3 linked regions of the Homo sapiens genome follow. The protein of the gene in region 2 interacts with the protein of the main gene of each other region in a biochemical or structural test. Each region holds a gene or a part of one and is shown on either strand. Other genes may lie near its edges.

Evidence for each region.
Region 1: of the proteins of EIF2AK2 (region 2) and PPP2R5A, one has a biochemical effect on the other in vitro, tested with the Homo sapiens proteins (one study listed by BioGRID).
Region 3: the proteins of EIF2AK2 (region 2) and DNAJC3 form a complex in vitro, tested with the Homo sapiens proteins (2 studies listed by BioGRID).

What each region holds. Positions count from the first base shown.
Region 1 is NC_000001.11:212,288,380-212,295,409, forward strand, and holds part of PPP2R5A (serine/threonine-protein phosphatase 2A 56 kDa regulatory subunit alpha isoform), read left to right. Parts: intron 1-7,030. UniProt on the Homo sapiens protein: The B regulatory subunit might modulate substrate selectivity and catalytic activity, and might also direct the localization of the catalytic enzyme to a particular subcellular compartment.
Region 2 is NC_000002.12:37,146,963-37,153,992, forward strand, and holds part of EIF2AK2 (interferon-induced, double-stranded RNA-activated protein kinase), read right to left. Parts: intron 2,343-7,030; exon of another isoform or gene 2,062-2,342; 5' UTR 1,895-2,061; exon of another isoform or gene 1,532-1,894; intron 1,444-1,531; exon of another isoform or gene 1,410-1,443; intron 861-1,409; 5' UTR 845-860; coding exon 726-844; intron 12-725; coding exon 1-11.
Region 3 is NC_000013.11:95,785,109-95,792,138, reverse strand, and holds part of DNAJC3 (dnaJ homolog subfamily C member 3 precursor), read right to left. Parts: intron 6,201-7,030; coding exon 6,068-6,200; intron 5,133-6,067; coding exon 4,984-5,132; intron 1,267-4,983; coding exon 1,109-1,266; 3' UTR 1-1,108. UniProt on the Homo sapiens protein: Involved in the unfolded protein response (UPR) during endoplasmic reticulum (ER) stress.

The DNA of each region.
Region 1 (7,030 bases), on a different chromosome or scaffold from region 2:
GTAGGGTTCAACAAGTTGAAGGTGCCATATAGTATTTGGTCACTAGTAAAGAAGAAAGTAAATTGGAACTTTACATTAATTGTAGATATTTGCATGAAAATACAGTATTCATCATAAGGAAAATTATGTATTCAGGATAAATTTATGCAAATTTAATTGAGGAAATAAGACCCTTACTTGGATTACAAACTAATAGGAACAACTTCTTTTACTCCAGATGCCAAAATGCTTGCAAGTGATTTAAAAAAAAAACACCAACATTCAATTGCTTCAATTGGAACTTTGGCAGTGTACTTGATACCACAGTGTTGTGTTTTTTCTGCCAGTGGTAGTTTTTTCCATTTGTGGCCTTCACAAAAACATGGAAAGCCCTTTAGTATGTGTATGAAAGAAAGAATTTTCTTCCTCCTCTGAAATACCATCTTACTGTGGAGTGATTCAGATATCCATGGACTCCAAGATCTTTTAAGTTTCATACCAGCCTGCTTATGTTACTTTGACCACATGCATCTGAACTGGAAAGGTGCCAACTAGTTTTCCTCAAACCATAGTAAGGATTAACAAAATAATCCAGCCTTTTCACCTGTAAGAAGTATTTGTGCAAAATAATTTAGTAAGTGGGTTGTGGGATTTTAATGGCAAAAATGTTCAGAATAAATTGTTTTATAATTGAAAGTATTTAATAAACAACAAGCCTTGTTAAAAGGCTTTTCAGTCTAACCTATTTTGTTTAAGATTCTGGAAGGCTTGGTTTGGTAAAGTAGTTGATGCCTTACATTTATATAACATTTTAGCATTTTAAAATTATTTTACCTTAAAAATTTTCTTAAATTATAAAACAGTATTGTTCATACCAAGTGAAACAATCCAAAGATATGTAACCCTTAATCCCTGTGTATCTCCTGCTTTTTCACACCTAGTAAGTAAGGGTAATACTGTTGTTTGATAATCCATGGCTCATTGTATTTTTACAAACATCCTATTCATTGGGTCATCCCTGAACTTTTTGCAAGGTCAGTATTCCCATTTTATTGATGAGAAAGTTGAGGCCTAAAAAGAATAGTTTCTGGCCTGTGATTACTTATCTGGATGATGTTGCAGCTGACACTGGGACCTAGGTCAAATGATTTCAGTATTTGTGCTGTTAACTGTTTTATGTAAATTTGAAGCAGTGTGATAGAGTTGGGTCTCTGGGGTTAGTCCTGGGTCAAAGGTAAATTTTTAATCTTTCTAAGTCGTTTTCCTTATCTGTAAAATGGGGATAATACAAATCTCCCCAGGCCTGTGGGGATTAAGGGGAATAATTTAAGTGCCTAAAAATAGGCAAAGAATGTTAGTTCCCATTCTCTTAAATATTTGAAAATCCAGATTAAAAATATTTTTAAATGAAGGATTATTAATAGGATTACTTACTTAAATGGTAAACTTTCCTAGTGTATTTAAAGTGATTTTATTTATAATCAGTTTTCAGATATGATTTATGTGATCTGAAGTGCAGCTGCAACATCTTTCAGCACGAGTGTAGAAATGGAAATAGGATTAAGTCAGACTCTTTAAAACATTAAAAGCTGTGATAAGATTTTTTTACCAAGCGAAGAAATCAACCTAACCAGTAGAATTATATAGATGTGCAGTCATCTTAGGAGACAGCCGGGAAATAAATAGCAAGATAGGCTGAAACTGGCTTTGAGATTGAAGTCCCCTTCAGAAGAGGTAAAACTTTCCCAAGTAGCACTCAAGATTCTTTGTTGGTCCATTCTTAGCAACTGTGTCCCACTAGAGGTATTGAGGCCAGTAATAGTGGTGTTGATTGCAGTGCTTCCTTACCTTTAGGGGGAAAAATGTGTGTGTTTTCTAAAGTAGGTGATCTAAGGTAATTGTGGAACAAGAACACTGACATTATCTTAAGTTCTATAGCTAAACCTTTTTGTGGAGAGAAAACCGTACTACTCACTCAACTTTTAAGGTTTATAGATCTTCTCAAAGTTACTATCATTCCATCTAAACACAGTTGGGATGGCACTAGAGGAGAGTTCAAATTCATCTGAAGATGTTAAGAAAATTGTTTACAAAAGGAAATAACATTTTAGTCATTTTAGGACTATTTTCTGAGATATCTCTTCTGGAAGATTTATTTTTAAAAAATTTAAAACATTTTTAGGATATTCTTAAGAGAAATTGCTAAATAAAGTGTTCACTGCTAGTCCTCACATAAAGGAAAAACTTTTCTATTTAAACCCATTTTAACATCTTTAGAATTCCTGTTTAGGATCATCTCTTCCTCCTCTCCATTTTATTACCTTATCTGATTGTTAATTGTGGATTATTTTATGAAGTGTCTAACTGAATAAAGTGCTAATCCAATAAAATGTATTTGGTAAAATAATGCAACCATTGTAGTATGTTACTGTCATGTAAACAGTAGATTTAAATTGTCTTCCTGCATCAGTGATGACTCATTCCTTTCAACTTCAGTTTAGCCATTTTCACCTGCAAGAATAACATTTTTCTCTTGATAAAATAACAAAGATGAATTAGTCTTTAAGGAGTTATTGCTGCCTTGGATTTCAAAGACAGGTTTACTAACAGAAATAACACATTTAGATTTTTGTGTTTCATTTTTAAAAGTTAGATTTTTGTAAAAAGCTGGGGATAAAGACTAGTTTGTTTTTATGTGTTTAGCACTGTGGTTCCCAATCCTGGCTATACTTGGAGAGGTCATTTATTTTATTTTATTTTATTTTTTTTCAGACTGAGTCTCGCTGTGTCCCCAGGCTAGAGTGCAGTGGCACGATCTCTCGGCTCACTGCCACCTCTGCCTCCCAGGTTCAAGCGATTCTCTTGCATGCACCACCATGCCAAGCTAATTTTTGTATTTTTAGGAGAGATAGGGGTTTTGCCATGGCTGGTCAGGCTGGTTTTGAACTCCTGACCCCAGGTGTTCTGCCTGCCTTGGCCTCCCAAAGTTATGGGATTACAGGCGTGAGCCACTGCACCCGGCCTATACCTGGAGAGTTTAAAACAAAACAAAACAAAACAAAAAATCAATACCTGGGCACATCCCTAAGAGATTGTAAATTAATTGGCCTAAGGTAAAATCCACTTACAGTATTTTTAAAAGCTCCCAGGGTGATTCTAACGCGCAGCCAGGATTGAGAATCACCGGGTTAGCATTGTCTGTCTATTGATTTAATTCATTAATTGAGACTTCGTCCTTTTCTCTCTGATACTCATGGTTCATTACCCAGCCTATTAACATTTCCTGCCCTGGCTTCACCTCCTGCTATTTACATTTCACTCTCTTAACTTTGCTGCCCCCTATAGCTTATTAGCTGCTTTCCTGAAGGGGAGATACTGCCATTAGATTCTGGAGTTTAGGTATGATGGGATGATTCTACTGGTTTATTGTCATTACCATAATTAAAGCCCAACTATTATTTGATGTAGGGTGGTCAGTTTTCTTTTCTCTGTGATTTTTGGAGCTGGCAGGTAAAATCGAGAACATGTGATAGAGGTTTGCCTAATTTTAATCCCATCATTCAGGATAATAAGTAATGATTTCAACCACTTTGGGATGTAAAACTAGTTTCCTCTGTATGCTCACAACACTGTTCTGTTTCTTGAAGATCTAGGCCTGATACTACCATTGTATATGTTAAATACAAGATATTGAACAAAGGAACTATTCTTGAACTTTACTGCGTTTTTGGTCATGCCTTATTTTTATTTCACATTAAGAAATGTTTTTCTCCAGAGTGTTTTCGTGTCTATCATCTAACTTAATCTTGACCACAACTTTTTATCGAAGGCAGGGCAGTGAGAACTCAGGGCTGCTTATATTCCATATTCCTATTTTGTCTTTGTCTTTTCTGGTAACTGGTTTGAATAATACTTCTGTTAGTTGATTTGTTGTTTGGGTGGCTTTTCAGTTGTTATGTTGTGATGCTCTCTCTCCAGAATGAGATGGTGAATTTTTCTGTGAAAGCAGAGTCATTATCTGTTTTTTCAAATCCTGTTATGGTACCAAATACAGTATTTTGTGCATAATGTGGTCATAGAGACAGAGTCAGTGTTTTGATGAAGAAATTATATGTTGGTTGTCTTATAGTCACTCCTTCCCCTTTAGATTGTGCTGCTTTTAGTGATGTTTGGTGCTATCTACCAGATGTTGATTCTTTTCTGTTTTGTTTTTTGGTTTTCCATATTTTTTTGAGACAGGGTCTTGCTCTATCACCCAGGCTGGAGTGTAGTGGCACAATTGTAACTTACTGCAGCCTCAAACTTCTGGGCTCAGGCAATTGTCCCAAGTAGCTAGGACTACAGGTGTGTGCTGCCACACCCAGCTAAGTTTTTTATTTTTATTCTTGTACAGACAAGTTCTCGCTATGTTGTCCTGGCTGGTCTTGAACTCCTGGCCTCATGTGATCCTCCGTCTTTGGCTTCCCAAAAGCTGGGATTACAGATGTGAATCACTGCCTCACCCAGTTTTTTGGTTTTAATATATTTATGCCTAAAACTGGTTCAGGATTATTTAAAACAGGGGAATCCAAGGGAGAGAATACAATCATGGGTTCTTAGTTTCTGTTTTTGGTTGTGCCAGTAAAGCCCCTTCCTCGTCCTTCTTTTCTGCTTATCACTAGAGACAGAAACTAAAAACCATGGCTTCAGGATGCTAAAAGCCTAAAACAAAACGAAACAGAACAACAACAACAAAATAAGGTGGGTTGGACAAGCTTGATTTAAAGTAAATGAATTCTGGGTCCTTAATATCTTGGTAGTAAATAGTAAATGTAGGTTTAAAACAAAAGATTATTTGTATTTTGCCAATGACCAGTATGAGTGACATGTAACATTATTGATTGATTTGTTGCTATGAAAGTTATTGTATAAGATTTGTGAGGAAAAGTAATACTGGGTTGACTCCTAGACATGGACATGTGTGTATAAAATAACTGAAACAATTTGTTTGCAGTAATTTCTAAGTTTAAGATGCAATCTTTCTTTATAAGGATGTCCTTGAAGGAGGTAAAAGGAACAGATTTGAAATATATAATACTTTTAGTGTATTATTATGTAACAAGGAATCTAAATGCTTTGCTGAAAGAGTTTTGTATGACAGACTGGGATTATGCAAAATAAACTCTACTTCTCTGAGCAGGATGTTGACTAATAAGCAGTTTCAAGCCTAGTTTTTATATCTGTCTTTTTGAACTGTTACCTGAAGGATTTTATTTATGTGGGACTTTTAAGTAAGTAATGAAGAATTTTAGAAATCCTGTAATTTTGATTGGGTTTGCTGAAGAAACATACTGGAATTTTTTTTTTTTTGGTGGGGGTAGTCTAACTTGGATACTGAAGACAAGGGATTTCTTGGAAACACACTCCTCCTACTGGAATGGTGATGCTAATTGCCGCTACTATATAACCTTACTGTGATGTTATATCTAGTTGAGCTTTCCAGTGCTGAATGGGATCTCAGAAGTCATTCTGGTTTAGCCTCTGTTGGGAATTGATTTCACTCTTGTTATTCTAATAAATATCTTGCCATTTCATCAGAGAAGTTTTCTTTAAGGTAGGGAGGAAAGTACAGGGTTTTAAAACCCTTATTCTCTCAGGTTTTGCTTAGTTAATGAATAAACCATTTAGATAATAGCTAAAAGAGGTTGAATACCTGAAACAAGAATTTTTAAATGGCTTAGAACTTGCAGTTCAGTAGTATCAAATCTAAAATTGTATATTTTTTTTCAGCAGAACGCAGATTTTAAAAAATTGTATATTTTGTCTAATTGGTTTTGCCTTTGTTTCACATTGTATCAAGGATATTCCATAATTACAGCTATTACCATAAGTCAATGGTTATTTGAACTCATTGTTAATCCCCTGCCTCTAAATTGATAAAAGTGAAAAAGGGAAAAAGGTGAGACAGTTTTTGTTATAACTCCTGAATTTTAATTAGCAAAACTGGGTAGATTTTTAAAACAACTTTTCAGACAGGCTTTTCTGAAGAAAAATATCTATTGAAGTTAAAAGTAAAATAAGACATAACTTCTGTAGGAATGTTTCTAATTTTATTAAAACAAACAAAAACAACAACAAAAACGTGCCCTACCATTCTTCTTTAAATTGGTCAGTGGCAAAATATTTTGTTTGCTGTGAAATTAGACACACACTTTATTTTCAAAAATCTAGTACAGAAATCTTTTCCTTTCTTTGGTTTTCCATAGTGCATAAAATTTTGGTGAACCGCTGCAGAGATTAAAACTTAGTAAAGTGAAAACAATGAATGCTTTTTCTTTTAAATTTAATGTCTTTAGGAGTTTATAGTTGGTGAATACAGACTTGTAAGCAGGCAGTTGCAATTAATGTGTTCAGTGTCATGATAAGAATAAGCTCTAAAATGTTAAGGGAGTATGTGAAGGACTCAATCCCGTTTTAGTAGGGGAGGGGAGTGATCAGGGAAAGTTTCCTGGAGAAAGTGACAGGTAAACTGCCATCTAAAAGGCCAGAAGGTGTTAGGCCAAGATAGATGGGCTAAGAGGTCCACCCAAAAGACAATATATGGAGACCCAAAGGTAATTGAGCATAGCATATTTTGGGAATTACCAGCAGTTTACATAGCTGTGATCTAGAATATAGGTTACATTCTATATCTCTGTGGTATATTCTGTATCACTAGAGAAGTGGAACAGCATTTAGGGTCTAGTGCGTAATCTTGTTGCTATGTTGAAGAATGGATGTAGGCAATTTATTGCATTCATACCTGCCAGTAACATGAAGAACGTATTGGGAAATCAGAGTGAGTAACACTAGTGAGGATACTGACACAGTAATCCAGACAAGAGATAAAGGTGCTTGTCCAAGTGGGGATGGGGTGGTATCATAGGCAAAATCTGGTGAGAGGGAACAATCAACGATGATACATTTCTAACTTGGGCAACTGGATGTATGATAGCAGTTTATTGAAAGGGAAAAAAGACATTAGATTTGGGAGGAGAAGATAATGGTTCTTTGTTGGACAGGTCGAAGTGTC
Region 2 (7,030 bases):
GAAATGTAAACCTGATTACAAAGAGAATATTCATAAAATATTATACAACTCATGCACTATCTAAAAACAAGTACTCTAGTCATCACTACCTCCTATGACTACCTTTGAGGGTTTGAACCTACATTCAATATAGCATTTAAGCAGTCACCTCAAACAGTAAAGCAGCATGTCTTGTTGAAGCATGGAAAGGTTTCTACCCTCTTTTCTCTCTGGAGTCAACTGTGGCTCCACCATGGTTCCCACTTTATGCCAAGAGCACTCTCACAAAACTAAAGTGTTGACCTCAAAGTTGTGCCAGAGTTGCCATTCCCCCAGCTTACATTTATAAGGTCATATCTTTTTTCTTTTTTTTTTAATTTTATTATTATTATACTTTAAGTTTTAGGGTACATGTGCACAACGTGCAGGTTACATATGTATACATGTGCCATGTTGGTGTGCTGCACCCATTAACTCGTCATTTAGCATTAGGTATATCTCCTAATGCTATCCCTCCCCCCTCCCCCCACCCCACAACAGTCCCTGGTGTGTGATGTTCCCCTTCCTGTGTCCATGTGTTCTCATTGCTCAGTTCTCACCTATGAGTGAGAACATGCGGTGTTTGGTTTTTTTGTCCTTGCGATAGTTTGCTGAGAATAATGGTTTCCAGCTTCATCCATGTCCCTACAAAGGACATGAACTCATCATTTTTTATGGCTGCCATATCATTTTTTATAGCAACCTACCTCCTATCATGTGGAGGTCCTGAATTAGGCAGTTCTTGATATTTAAGTACTACTCCCTGCTTCTGACGGTATGTATTAAGTTCCTCCATGAAGAAACCTGCTGAAAGATCACCAGCCATTTCTTCTTCCCGTATCCTACAATGGAAGAGACATTTGAATGAGTGATGCTCACAGAACATATTTAATCTGAGTTTCCCAATGCAGTTTAGGAGACAGAGGGGTTGGGGAGACTCCCCTTTATAGGACTCATCTCAGTCTCACATAAATGCAGAGACTTTCTTTCAAAACCGTTCTTTCTTTCTCATTCACTGCACAATAAAGTTAATTTCTCCAAAATTTTCTACTTTAAAAACTCAACTTGGCCAGGTGTGGTGGCTCACGCCTATAATCCCAGCCAAGGTGGGCGGATCACCTGAGCTCAGGAGTTCGAGACCAGCCTGGGCAACATGGCGAAACCCCATCTCAATTTTGAAATTGTTTTAAAAAATAAAGGAAAGAAAAAAAACTCAACTGGTCAGTGAAAGGGGGTCCTTCTCTTTAACTCTGCTCTGTGCTTCCACTGAGTATCAACTACATGTTTGCCTACCTGCTTAAAAAAGTAAAAAGGCTGCAGGATTGTAGAATGTTTTATGTTGAGAAGAAAAAGATTTAGAGTATATATAATAAGTGAAGTGGAGTGGTAGCATGGGGACAGGCTGGGAAATGAACGGGCAGGCAAGTGTGCCTGTGTGGACGTGGATCCTGCCGGAAGCCAGGCGGAGGAGAGCTCAAGCTAAGGGTGATCAGCCCGTGACCTAGATCTCTAGACAAAATAAAACAAGGAAAATATGCTAGAATCAACAATGATGGATCGATAGTTGCAGTCCAGCTTCGTACTACAAATGAGTGCCATAAAACCTACTATACTTGTCACACAGGTTTTAAGATGTTGCAAGAATTGTCATCAAATGACATGCTTTTACTTCAACTTAGAACTGGAAGGACACTTTCTAGGAACAATACAATTTGCTTTCATCACATAAAAATTTATATTGACAGATTTGAGGATTTACAGAAGTCGTGTTGTGACCCATTTAACATACACAAAAAACTAGCCCCCCAGAATTTGCATGTAATTGACTTAGATGATGCCACTTTTCTGAGTGCAAAATTCGGAAGACCGCTTGTACCTGGTTGGAAGCTTTGTCCAAAATGCACGCAGATAATCACGGAAGTGTGGATGTTGATTCTGAAGACCGCCAGAGAAGCAAACCTGAGTCAGATGGAAGAACTGCTAAAGTTTTGAGGTCATTACAATTTACAAATCCAGGAAGGCAAACTGAATTTGCTCCAGAAACTGGTAAAAGAGAAAAAAGAAGGCTTAAAAAAATGCAACCGCTGGTTCAGACAGACGAGTGATACCAGCGAAGACTAAGGTCTATGATAGCCAGGGTCTCCTGATTTTTATTGGGATGGACCTCGATGCCTCGATGAAGATTGTTTAGGATGTTTCTATGCTTGTCGTGCCTGTGGTTCTACCAAGTGTGGAGCTGAATGCCACTGTGACCGCAAGTCACAAAGTATGAGCAAACTGAAATTGAAGGAGGAGAAATAATTCATTATAAACATGCTGGATAATCTGTGGTATCAAACTATGGGGCCTTTAAAGGTCTTTATTTCTAAAATTCGGTTACTCTAAGATACATTTTAAGCTTGATTGTCAAATGACAAAGATTTTAAAAGCACCTCAATGTGCACGAATTTTTCATCTTGGGTGCTTTAAGATTCACTATTTGATATAAATTCAGATAGCCTATTTCTCAGTAGTCAGCATTAAGCCTGCCTGGACCAATATAAACATGTAGGGTGTAGGCAGGTCCTCAATGTGCACGGTTCCCATGGCACAAATTTCAGTGACCTAGATTTAGTTTAAATACCAGTTTCCTTACCAGGAAGGAAAGGAAACTGGTAAGGAAACTGGTGTTGTTTAAACCTAGGTTAAAATTTTAGGTAGCACAGTATAACTCTGAGTAATTACAGGAAGTACAAACTTCTCTGCTAGTTCTTCAGTCTACAAATCACGATGTAAATAACAGATATGCTTCATGATCAGTGACCAGTCGTGTTACTTGTTTCAAATTCTTCCAGTGGTTGGTCCCTGTGCATCTGTTAATCAGTTCACTCACAGCAGAGCACGTAGTTACACTGTCTCTTTGTCCTCCACCTGACATTTTATAGAAGTGAACAATCGAAAGAACTGGCCAACAAAGATGAAAGTCCAACAAAGCAACGAAAAATGATAACACTGGAAGTGAAATTTGAATCAAACATAAATGGATTTGTAGAAGAAGTCACTGATCATGGGAATGTTCTTCCTGCTGTGCATTCATAGGAGCTTAGTGAAGGCAAACTTATCAACACAAATAAGAAAAGTGATTGCAATAAAGATAAATATGTCCCAGAGGAAGTGACGGTAAAAAAAAAAAAAAAACAAACTTCACACTAAAGAGCATTTAATGTGAATACAGAAATACTTCACAACATTGAAAGCACAAGCAATAAAAGGCTGGAAGCTCACCCAAACTTAAAAGGAGTATGACAGTTTGCCATGAATAGAAAAGATGCTTACTCAGTATCATAAGTCACTTGGCAGAAAAAAAAGGCAATCCCTATTCAAACTACTTAGTTTTCACAATGAAATAAAACACTTTAATTCTATTTTTAATGTTTTAAATTACAGTGTACTAAATATTTTTAAATTTTTTTTGCATTTTTTTCTACATTTATAACTGACCTTAAGAGTTTTAATATTTTAGCAGAATTTTAAAGGTCATGGAACAATCATCATTTTCCCCATTGATTATTAAGATTGCTTTGCATGGCCATTTTTATGGTCCCACAGTACCATGCAAAATGAGGACCGCTTGTAGCCGGGAACAACACAATGCTTGCTTCAGGGAAAACTGATTTACACAGAAGTGACTAGTTGAGTGGTAAACTATTTTGGAAATAATCTACATATCTAAGTGCTGAAATATATTTCTCTTCTCCCCACGTATTCTTCAAATAAAAAAGTTTTAATACTTTAAAAAAGTGAAGTGTATGAAATCATGAAGGATTTAACTGTATGGATATAGATTTCTCTATGAAATCCCAAAAATCTCCCCTCTGAATTTTGCAGAAATCAATTTTAGGACAATTTAACCACTGAGTAAATTAAGACCTCTGTTTATAGGTCTCACTGGACCAAGTCTATAGCAATGATTTAAATTATAAACAAAATTTAGAGGATATAAAATATAAATGTACAAGCGAAAACTATAAAACTCTTAGAAGAAAATATGGGGGAGATCTTCATGACTTTGGATTTGGTGATAAAATTTTAGCTATGACAGCAAGAGCACAAGCAACAAAAGAAAACAGAGATAAATTGGGCTTCATCAAAATTTAAAACGTTTGTGTATCAAAGGACACTATGAAGAAAATAAAATGACAATCTACAGAATAGAATATTTACAAATCATATATCTGATGAGGGTCTAGTAACCAGATATATAAAGAATTCTTACAGCTCAACAACAAAAAGACAAACCACCCAATTAAAAAAATAGGCAAAGGGGCTTGAACAGACATCTCTCCAAAGAAAATATGTAAATCGCCAATAAGCACATGAAAAGATACTCAACATCATGAGTCATTAAAGAAATGGAATTCAAAACCACAACTAAATACAATTTCACACCCACTAGTATGGCAATAATAATAATAATCAGGAAATAATAAAAAATAAGTGTTGGTGAGGACATGGAGAAACTGGACCCCTCAAACACTGCTGATAAGAATGTAAAACAATACGGTTGCTGGGGTTCCTCTAGAAGGTAAACTTTGAATTATCATAAAACTCAGCAATTCCATTCCTAGATATTTCAAAGAATTGGAAAACAGGTTTCCAAACAAAGACTTAGACAGGAATGTACATAGCAGCACTGTTAACAATAGCCAAAAGGTGGAAACAAACCAAGTGTCCATCAACGGATAAATGGTGAACAAAATGTGAAATATATCTACACAGCGGAATATTATTCAGTCACAAAAAAAATGAAGTACTGATACATGCTACAACATGGATAGGCCAGGCGCCGTGGCTCATGCCTGTACTCCCAACACTCTGGGAGGCCGAGGCGGGCGGATCACGAGGTCAGGAGATCGAGACCACGGTGAAACCTCGTCTCCACTAAAAATACAAAAAATTAGCCGGGCGCGGTGGCGCGCGCCTGTAGTCCCAGCTACTCGCGAGGCTGAGGCAGGAGAATGGCGTGAACCCGGCAGGCGGAGCTTGCAGTGAGCTGAGATCGCGCCACTGCACTCCAGCCTGCGCGACAGAGCGAAGACTCCATCTCAAAAAACAACAACCACAACAACAAAAACATGGATAAACCTCAAAAACATTATGCAAAATGAAAAATCCAGACATAAAATTTCACACATATTGTATGATTCCCATTTATATGAAACTTCCAGAATCGGTAAATCCATAAAGGCAGAAATCAGATCCTGTAAACCTCTTAATTCTTCTTGGAAAGCTCTTTTGATCTTCTTTCTTCCAGGGCCACTCTTTCTGTTTTTTGTTTTTGAGACAGGGCCTCACTCTGTTGCCCAGGCTGGAGTGCAGTAACATGATCTCAGCTCACTGCAGCATCTGCCTCCCAGGTTCAAGCAATTTTCCTGCCACAGCCTCTCAAGTAGCTGGGACTATGGGACTACAGGTGCCCACCACCACGCCCAGCTAATTTTTGTATTTTTGAGGTTTCCCGGTGTTGGCCAGGCTGGTCTCCAACTCCTGAACTCCAGTGATCCACCAGCCTCAGCCTCCCAAAGTGCTGGGATTACAGGTGTGGGCCACCACGCCTGGCCGGGCCACTCTTTTTAACACACCTTAATCTTTGTAGCTCTAAATGCTGGCATGGCCCAACAATCCTCTTCTCTTCACTCTATACTTTCTCCTTAAGGTGATTTCTTTCACGTCCATGATTTCAGTGATCATCTATACGCCATTACCTCTAAAGTTTACATATTCCTTATGAACCGCTCTGAGTTTCAGATCTCTCTATCCAAATTCTCCACTTGAACATCTTGAACGAACTTTAAACTCAAAATATCCTGTACTGCATGTATGATCTTCTCCCAAGCTGGTTTGAAGTTTCCTTTCACAGGAAATGAGTCCACCATCTATCCAAGTCTGAAAGCCATCAATCTGGGAGGCATCCTTGACATTTCCTCTCCCTGCCTTCTAATCTATAACTAAGTCCTGTCACCAAAATCTTTCTACTTCTCAAAGATGTCTACACTTACCATCCTAGTTCAAGCCAACACCACCTCATTCCTGGATTGCTGTGAGAATCTCAGAACCAGTTCCGACAGCTACTTCAATTCCTTCTCTACCCTGCAACCATTGTGATTTTTTTTTTTATGTTTTAAAATTGTGATAAAATACACATAACATGAAATGTACTATTTTTCAATGTATTAATTCCCTGCCTTTAAGTACATTCACAATGTTGTGTAGCCGCCACCACATCCACATCCACAACTCTTAATCTTTCCAAACAGAAAGTGTGTACCCATTAAACAGTAACTCCCCATTTCCCAGTCCTTTCAGTCTCTGCTAATCTTTTTTTTTTTTTTTTTTTTTGAGACAGGGTCTCGCTCTGTTGCCCAGGCTGGAGTGCAGTGGTGTGATCACAGCTTACTGCAGCCTTGAACTCTGGGCTCAAGCGATCCTCCCACCTCAGCCTCCCGAGTAGCTGGGACCATAGGCGTGGGCATGCCTGGTTAATTTTTTATATTTTCTAATCTCTCTTCTGTCTCTGTAAATTTGCCTGTTCTAGGTACCTCATATAAGTGGAATCAAACAGTATTTGTCCTTTTGTGTCTGGTTATTTCACTTAGCAAAATGTCTTCAAGGTTCATCTATGTTGTAGCATATGTCAGAATTCCTTTCCTTTTTAAGGCTGAATAATATTCCGTTGTGTATATATACCATATTTTGTTCATGCATTCATTTATGAATGGACACTGGTTATTTCAACCTTTTGGCCATCTTGAATCATGCTGCTGTGAACACTGGTATACATATATCTGTTTAAGTCCCTACTTCTGAATATTTGTGGTATATAAGTGGAATTGAATCACATGATAATTCTGTTTAACTTTGTGATGAATCACCAAATTGTTTTCCACAGTGGTTACACCCATGTTACATTTCCACCAGCAATGCACGAGGGTTCTAATTTCTCCACATCCTCACCATCACTTGTTATTATCTG
Region 3 (7,030 bases), on a different chromosome or scaffold from region 2:
TGTATTTTCTTGTAGGCAGGAGAAAATCAGAGGCATCAAGATCTGGTAGAAGGGCCGGTCTGCTGTTTAACACATACCAGCAGACAGGTCCCACGTGGGAGGCACCACAGACCTTTAAGATAGGGTGAAGCCTTGATAGAAGGAGAAACAGAAGCTGCCCACTGTCTTTACTTAGAAGTGGAGAACATGGCATTCTGTATTTATTTATGTTGACTGCGCAACTTTACGTTTCTAAACCAGTCTTGTTACATGAAATTCCCTATAAAAACTCAGAACTTCAGTTGTTTAAAAAGTATTTCAATCTGCACTTCAGCAATATTATTTTAAATACCACCACTATTTTATCTGAACTTATTTTACCTATAACAACTTTTAATTTGTTGTGTTTAATATTAAAAGGGTCCATAGGAATTTATAGATTCAAGTTTCAGTATTCTTCTTCAGGTACTGAACCAAAAAAATGTACATTTAACATTAATCCAAAGTCTAAGCCTGGATATATTATTATTTGGTGGCAGGGTTCCTAAAAGATGGTCTCTTGCTCCTTCAGTGACAGCCACGTTGACAGACCACAGAGGTGCAAACACATGCACACTAAAGATTTCACAGCTACTCACAAGTGACGAGACTGACCACATCGAAGCACAGTTGTCCCTAAGAACATACAGCTCAAAAATGTTCATGTTCTCTTTAAGAATACTGAAGTATAACCATCCTCATGAAGATTACAGCTCCTTCTTACACTTGTAGGCACTGACTTACTCTGCAAGGCTGTGAAGAGAAGAATCTCAGCTCCAGTGTAGAAAAATAATACAGAATACGTGAGCACTTCCACGGGTGAGCCTGCCTCAGACCACTTCCCTCCAGACAGCATAAAGCAGATGCAGGCTGCTCTGTCAGAAATAGAACCATTCCTTGCCTCCTTGCCGTTGCAAACCCATTAACCATAAATCTGACAGGGATAAGAACAGATTTTTTCCTATTAAAGCAACTCTTTGGTCATGGACAAACTGAAAAGATTTGAAATTTTTTTTCATTAGGGTCCCGGAACAAGATTTCTTTGTTTTTAATCTTTAAAAAAATTAAGAAGAGCAGAAAAACAGTTGGTTTAATTGAAGTGGAATTTAAATCTAAATGGTCCGCCTGAGCTGAAGGGATTGAACCCTTGCCATGAGTTCCAGCTTCTGTGGAAAGGGTTGCCGCCGCCTCCTTGCTGGCTCTCTGCATCCAAAGGATCTTCTCCGTCGTCAAACTTCTTTCTCATTTCTAGAAAGAAATCAGAAAATTAAGAACCAGATAATATCTAAGGTATAGGGGCAGGGGGAATGTTTTCTTTGGGCAGAGGAGGGTGGGTGGGCTTGAGGAGCTACTTACTTTTCGGTTATCAAGAGTTGTGCCTGACATTCAAATCCAGGCTCTCCCATTCCCACCCTGAAGAAACAGACTAGAGAAATTTGCCACAAGGAGGGTGAGGTTCAGGGTTGATAATAGGTATTTATTGAGATTCAGGCCCCTAAATCTCACTCCAGAAGAAGCCACCCAAGCTTGATAACTACCCAATGAAATTATTTGGAAAAAAATAATTCAAGAGAAACTTCCAAGAGTCTACAATTCTAATGAAACAGCCAGCTCACCACCCTAATCCCCAAAATAAAGTCTGTAAGGCAATGACCTCATCAAGCATCTAATGAGCATTCTAGCACTAAGGCTCCTCAGACATGAGGGGAGCGGGGCCTCCATAACATACAACTCCAGGAGGTTCACCTTTCCCTCCCATGCAATTGGTGCCCCCACAGCGGGGCCTCTGAGCCCCGAACAGAGAGAGATCAATGCAGAGACATGGGAGAAGGCAATAAAGAGGAATATTGCAGGGATAGGAAGAAAGAGCTCATGTCCTCAGAGTCATTAGAAAAACCCTGGAAGACAACCTAGGCAAATACTATTCAGGACATAGGTATGAGCAAAGATTGCTTTTGGTGTTTCCATCATGAAATTGCAACAAAAGCAAAAATTGACAAATGAGATCTAATTAAACTAAAGAGCTTCTACACAGCAAAAGAAACTATCAACAGAGTAAACAGACAACCTACAGAATGGGAGAAAATTTTTGCAAACTATGCAACTGACAAAGGTCTACAAAGAACTTAAATGTACAAGAAAACAACCCCATTAAAAAGTGGGCAAAGGACATGAACAGACACTTCTCAAAAGAAGACATATATGCGGCCAACAATCATATGAAAAAAAGCTCAACATCACTGATCACTAGAGCAAATAATTAGATCATTATTGCAAATAAAAAATGGCTATTATTAAAAAGTAAAAAAAATAGATGCTGCCAAGGTTGTGGTGAAAAAGGAACGCTTATACACTATTGGTGGCAGTGTAAATTCATTCAGCCATTGTGGAAGACAGTGTGGCAATTCCTTAAAGAAAGAAATACCATTCAACTCAGCAATCTCATTACTGGGTATACACCCAAAAGAATATAAATTGTTCCATTATAAAGACACATGCACATATCAGTTTATTGCAGCTCTATTCACAATAGAAAAGACATGGAATCAACCTAAATGCCCATCAATGATAGACTGGATAAAGAAAATGTGGTACATCTACACCATGGAATACTATGCAGCCATAAAAAAGAATGAGATCATGTCCTCTTGCAGGGGCATGGATGGAGCTGGAGGCCACTATCCTTAGCAAACTAATGCAGGAACAGAAAACCAAATACCACATATTCTCACAAGTGGGAGCTAAATGATGAGAACTCATGGATGCATAAAGGGGAACAACACACACTGGGGCCTATTGGAGGGTGAAGGGTGGGAGGAGGGAGAGGATCAGGAATAATAACTAATGGGTTCTAGACTTAATACCTGGGTGATGAAATAATCTGTACAACAAACCCCCATAACACACATTTACCTATGTAACAAACCTGCACATGTACCCCTGAACTTACAAAAAAAAAATAAAAAGACTTAGCATATAGCTAGGTTTTTTAATAAATGGAAAATAGAGAATGCAGAAAAAAATGCAAATATAAAAATAATCCCAAGTCTCGCTTTGCTCTCTCACAGTAACTTGTCCTTTAGGGGTTCAAAGATACTTAGAGAAAAGCCAGTTTACTTCATTCTGGGAGGTTAATCTGAAGCCACATATTTAGGAGGAGGAAACCCACCAGTAAAACTGAGGGTTCTTATGCTGAGTGTTAATAACTAAGCGGGTATTGTAGGTGATCTGAAACTCAGCTTTGTTTTATAAAAGCTAATGCAGTTAGACTCAGGCCCCATATCTTTGATATCTCACAGGCAAAATTAATCTAGGGTGTTAGCACTTAGAACAGTAGTGAACTCTCCGTAGGGGTGGGGGTGATAATGGCCCCAGAGAAAGGATGCTGTGAATGGAAGGGGAAGTGAATTCAGCTATATTCACATTATGTAATTACTTAAAAATTCAGTGGAGTGGTCTGCATACATCTCAAAGAATGAGGTAACCATTTTTCAATGAGAAAAAACTATAGCCAAGATTTATTTCAAGTGAAAATTAAGTTTCAGATTGGCATACATCATGTGATTCTACTAAACATATTCCTAAATATGACACGTCTTGATATATGCATAGTAAAAAACTTTAAAGTCTTTAAAAGAAAAGATAGTTCATCCTGAACAGAAGAACAGGAGGTAAGAAAAAGGACCTGCAGCTCTTTCCTCAGTGCATGCCTCTGTGCAGGGACACCCATCCCCTTGGTTGGCTCCCTGGTACCTTAAAACGTAGCACAAAGTCCCTCTCACATAAGAAGATCCTGACTCCCAGTCTGATACACTATCACACCTGTGCACTGCACAAACTAAGAGGATTGAACTGCTTAAGGCAGGTTGTAGCCACTCAGTATTTGCTAAGTAACAGGACAGTATGTATCCAACACTACTTGATAAGGGAAGTACATTTCTGTCTCCTTTACTGGATTATAAATTACTTGAAAACGAAGGATCATTTACTTTCAATTCCACTGCAAGTACATTTCTGTCTCCTTTACTGGATTATAAATTACTTGAAAACAAAGGATCATTTACTTTCAATTCCACTGCATAAGTAAGTACTCAAAAAAGATTTGACAAACATAAAACTTTCCTCTCTTTTGTTTGTTTAGCTCAGATCACAGCTGCTGTTCCCACTGACATGGAAGGCCACAAAAAAGCAGTATAAGCTTAACATGAAATTCTCTGGCAGCAGCAAAGCATTGTTCAGTATTACCTCAATGCTTAGCCTGTCTCCCTCTTAACGAAATTTCCAGGCCATATTACTGTATGGCAAAAGAACACATGTGGCCAGGTGCAGAGGCTCACACCTGTAATCTCAGAACTTTGGGAAGATCACTTTAGCCCAGGAGTTAAAGACCAGCCTGGGCAACACAGTGAGATCCCATTTCTACAAAAAATAAAAATTAAAAAAAAAAAAAACACATATAAGCCTGTGAATCTAATGATCCTATGATTCAGGGCAAGATTCCTGGTGAACACATATGGGGCAAAGCAGGCCCTAGGCCAGACAGCTGTTCTTCTCCCACTCCATGTAATCCAGCCTGGCAAGCTGGTTTCCTCATCAAGCTCCTGTAAGCTTGGTGGAGAAAATTCATCATTGACCTTTGAGGTTAGAGGGAACCTGAGAGATCCTCTTATGCTCAGTGTTGAAAAAACTGAGACCAAAAAGTTCTGATAACTTCTTTGAGTAGAAAAAAGATTCAAATTCAGGCCCTCTGATTCCACATTTGATAGTCTTTCCACTGTACCCTGCAACAGGAGGGTGCCCAACATAAGAGGGCTGAATGAGGGCAGGCATAAAACTGGACCTCTGGAACTGGGCTCAGGACCCGTCACTGCCTATACAGCCCCACGTGGAGAACCCACCACATGTTCCACCCTCGCTTCTAACACCACCTCTAGGATGAGTCAAAGGAATAAAAGCTAATAATACCTGGATCAGAGAGGACTTCTTTAGCAGCTGCTATATCAATGAACTTTTTCTCAGCTTTTTTCTTTTCTTCTTCATTCTGGAAGTTATCTGGGTGCCACTGCAGTGCTAATTTTCGGTATGCTTTAATAATTTCTTGCTTTTTGGCATTTCTGAGGGGTGGTAAAATAAATAATCATTAGTGGAAAAGTGTCTAACATACTATCATAAAAATCAGAAGAGCTGATTAAGATCCTACTGGCAATTAACAAAACTGGTTTTATAAAATAGTTCCAATGGTATCACAGGCCAAAGATCTGCATACACAGTTCTGGATGATCATTAAAGCTGACATCAGGCTTCCTTGGATACTCGCTCACTAAGATTACTGAGAATAAAGCACTCCTGATCTTTAGAACTTTCCCTTTTTTAAAAAAGGTACATCAATGAATTTTTTAACTTTCTGAATTTCCAAGTTACCATAATTCAATTCTTGGTATTAAAAAATATTTGACTCTGAATGCCACTTTCAATTATGCTTCTGCATTAGCTTACTTAATAGTAAGCACAAAGATTCCAAATTTTGAAAAATTGATGGTTTACTCAGCGAACCACTGGGAGGTATATCATTTACTTAATTTCAGAATTCACCCACAGGCACTGGGAGGTGTATCATTTACTTAGTATGTACTTTTATATAAGGTAGATCTTAATTTCAGACTTAATTCTGAAAGCACTACTTTATTTTTAGGCCTAGAGAAGGCTTTTTCTTTACTCATTCCGTCTCCTCCTCCATCCCCACCAAAAGGAATCTCACTCCTACCCCTTTACCCTTCTTAAAAAATCTAGGCTTAGGACCCATTCATGCTACAGTGTCATCTTTGTTGCCAACTACTAATTCTGTTGTTGCATTATTGGTCTCTATCAAAGAAACTTGCCTATAAAATACTCAAAGTAGCTTTCTAATGTTAAAGACTGTTAAGGTTTAATCCATATGACTGAAATTACATAAGTAAAGAAAATGAATCAGAGAGGAAAAAGAGCAATGATTAGCTTTGAAACAGAGTTGATTAAAAATAGCAAAGTAAATTTTAAATTAATAATTCACCTTTTTACTCCCAAGATTTTATAATAATCTCGTTTCTGCGACTGTTTCAATAATCTTTGTGCTTTCTCTAGACCTTCTCGAATCTGCTGATCATTTTCATTGTGTTCCTGAGCAGTTTCATAATCCTGAATAGCTGTCAAAATATGTTTAAGATAATATTGTTAAGGCAAATTATAATTTATTGCCTTTTCTTATCCTGTAAAATTGATGCTAAAGTCGTCATCCCCCAACCCCTTCACTCTTTGGCCATTATTGCCAAAAACCTTAAGTGATACCCCGTTAGTAACTTTGATCAAGAATATTTAAGAGGCCGGGCACAGGGGCTCATGCCTGTGATCCCATCACTTTGGGAGGTCGAGGTGGGCGGATCATGAGGGTCAGGAGTTCAAAACCAGCCTGGCCAACACAATGAAACCCCGTCTCTACTAAAAAAAAAAACACAAAAATTAGCCGGGCATGGTGGTGCACGCCTGTAGTCCCAGCTACTCGGGAGGCTGAGGCAGGAAAACCGCTTGAACTTGGGAGGCGGAGGTTTGCAGTGGCCGACATCGCACCACTGCACTCCAGCCTGGGTGACAGAGTGAGATTCCGTCTCAAAAAAAAAAAAAAAAAAAAAAAAGGTTTAAAAGGCATAATAATGAAAACTGAGTTTAGGTAGTTTATTATTCTCATTCAACAAAATGTACTGCTGTTTACTTGCCCACCCTCCCGCATTATCTCCCCATACCCTCTGGGTAAATATGTTAATATCAGCACTTTATCCAGAGCAATCTTACCACCATTAAGACTAAGTGGTTGTTACACAGGAAAGAAAGACAGTGATAAAGAAAATCGGCCTGGTCAGCTATGGATTGACAACAGTCCAGAAGAATTAGACATTTAGAAAGGGATCAGGAGGTGGGTTTGGCCAATGGGAAGCTAGAAAAAAAAAATTTGTAGAAAGAAAGGGAACAGAAGGAACTG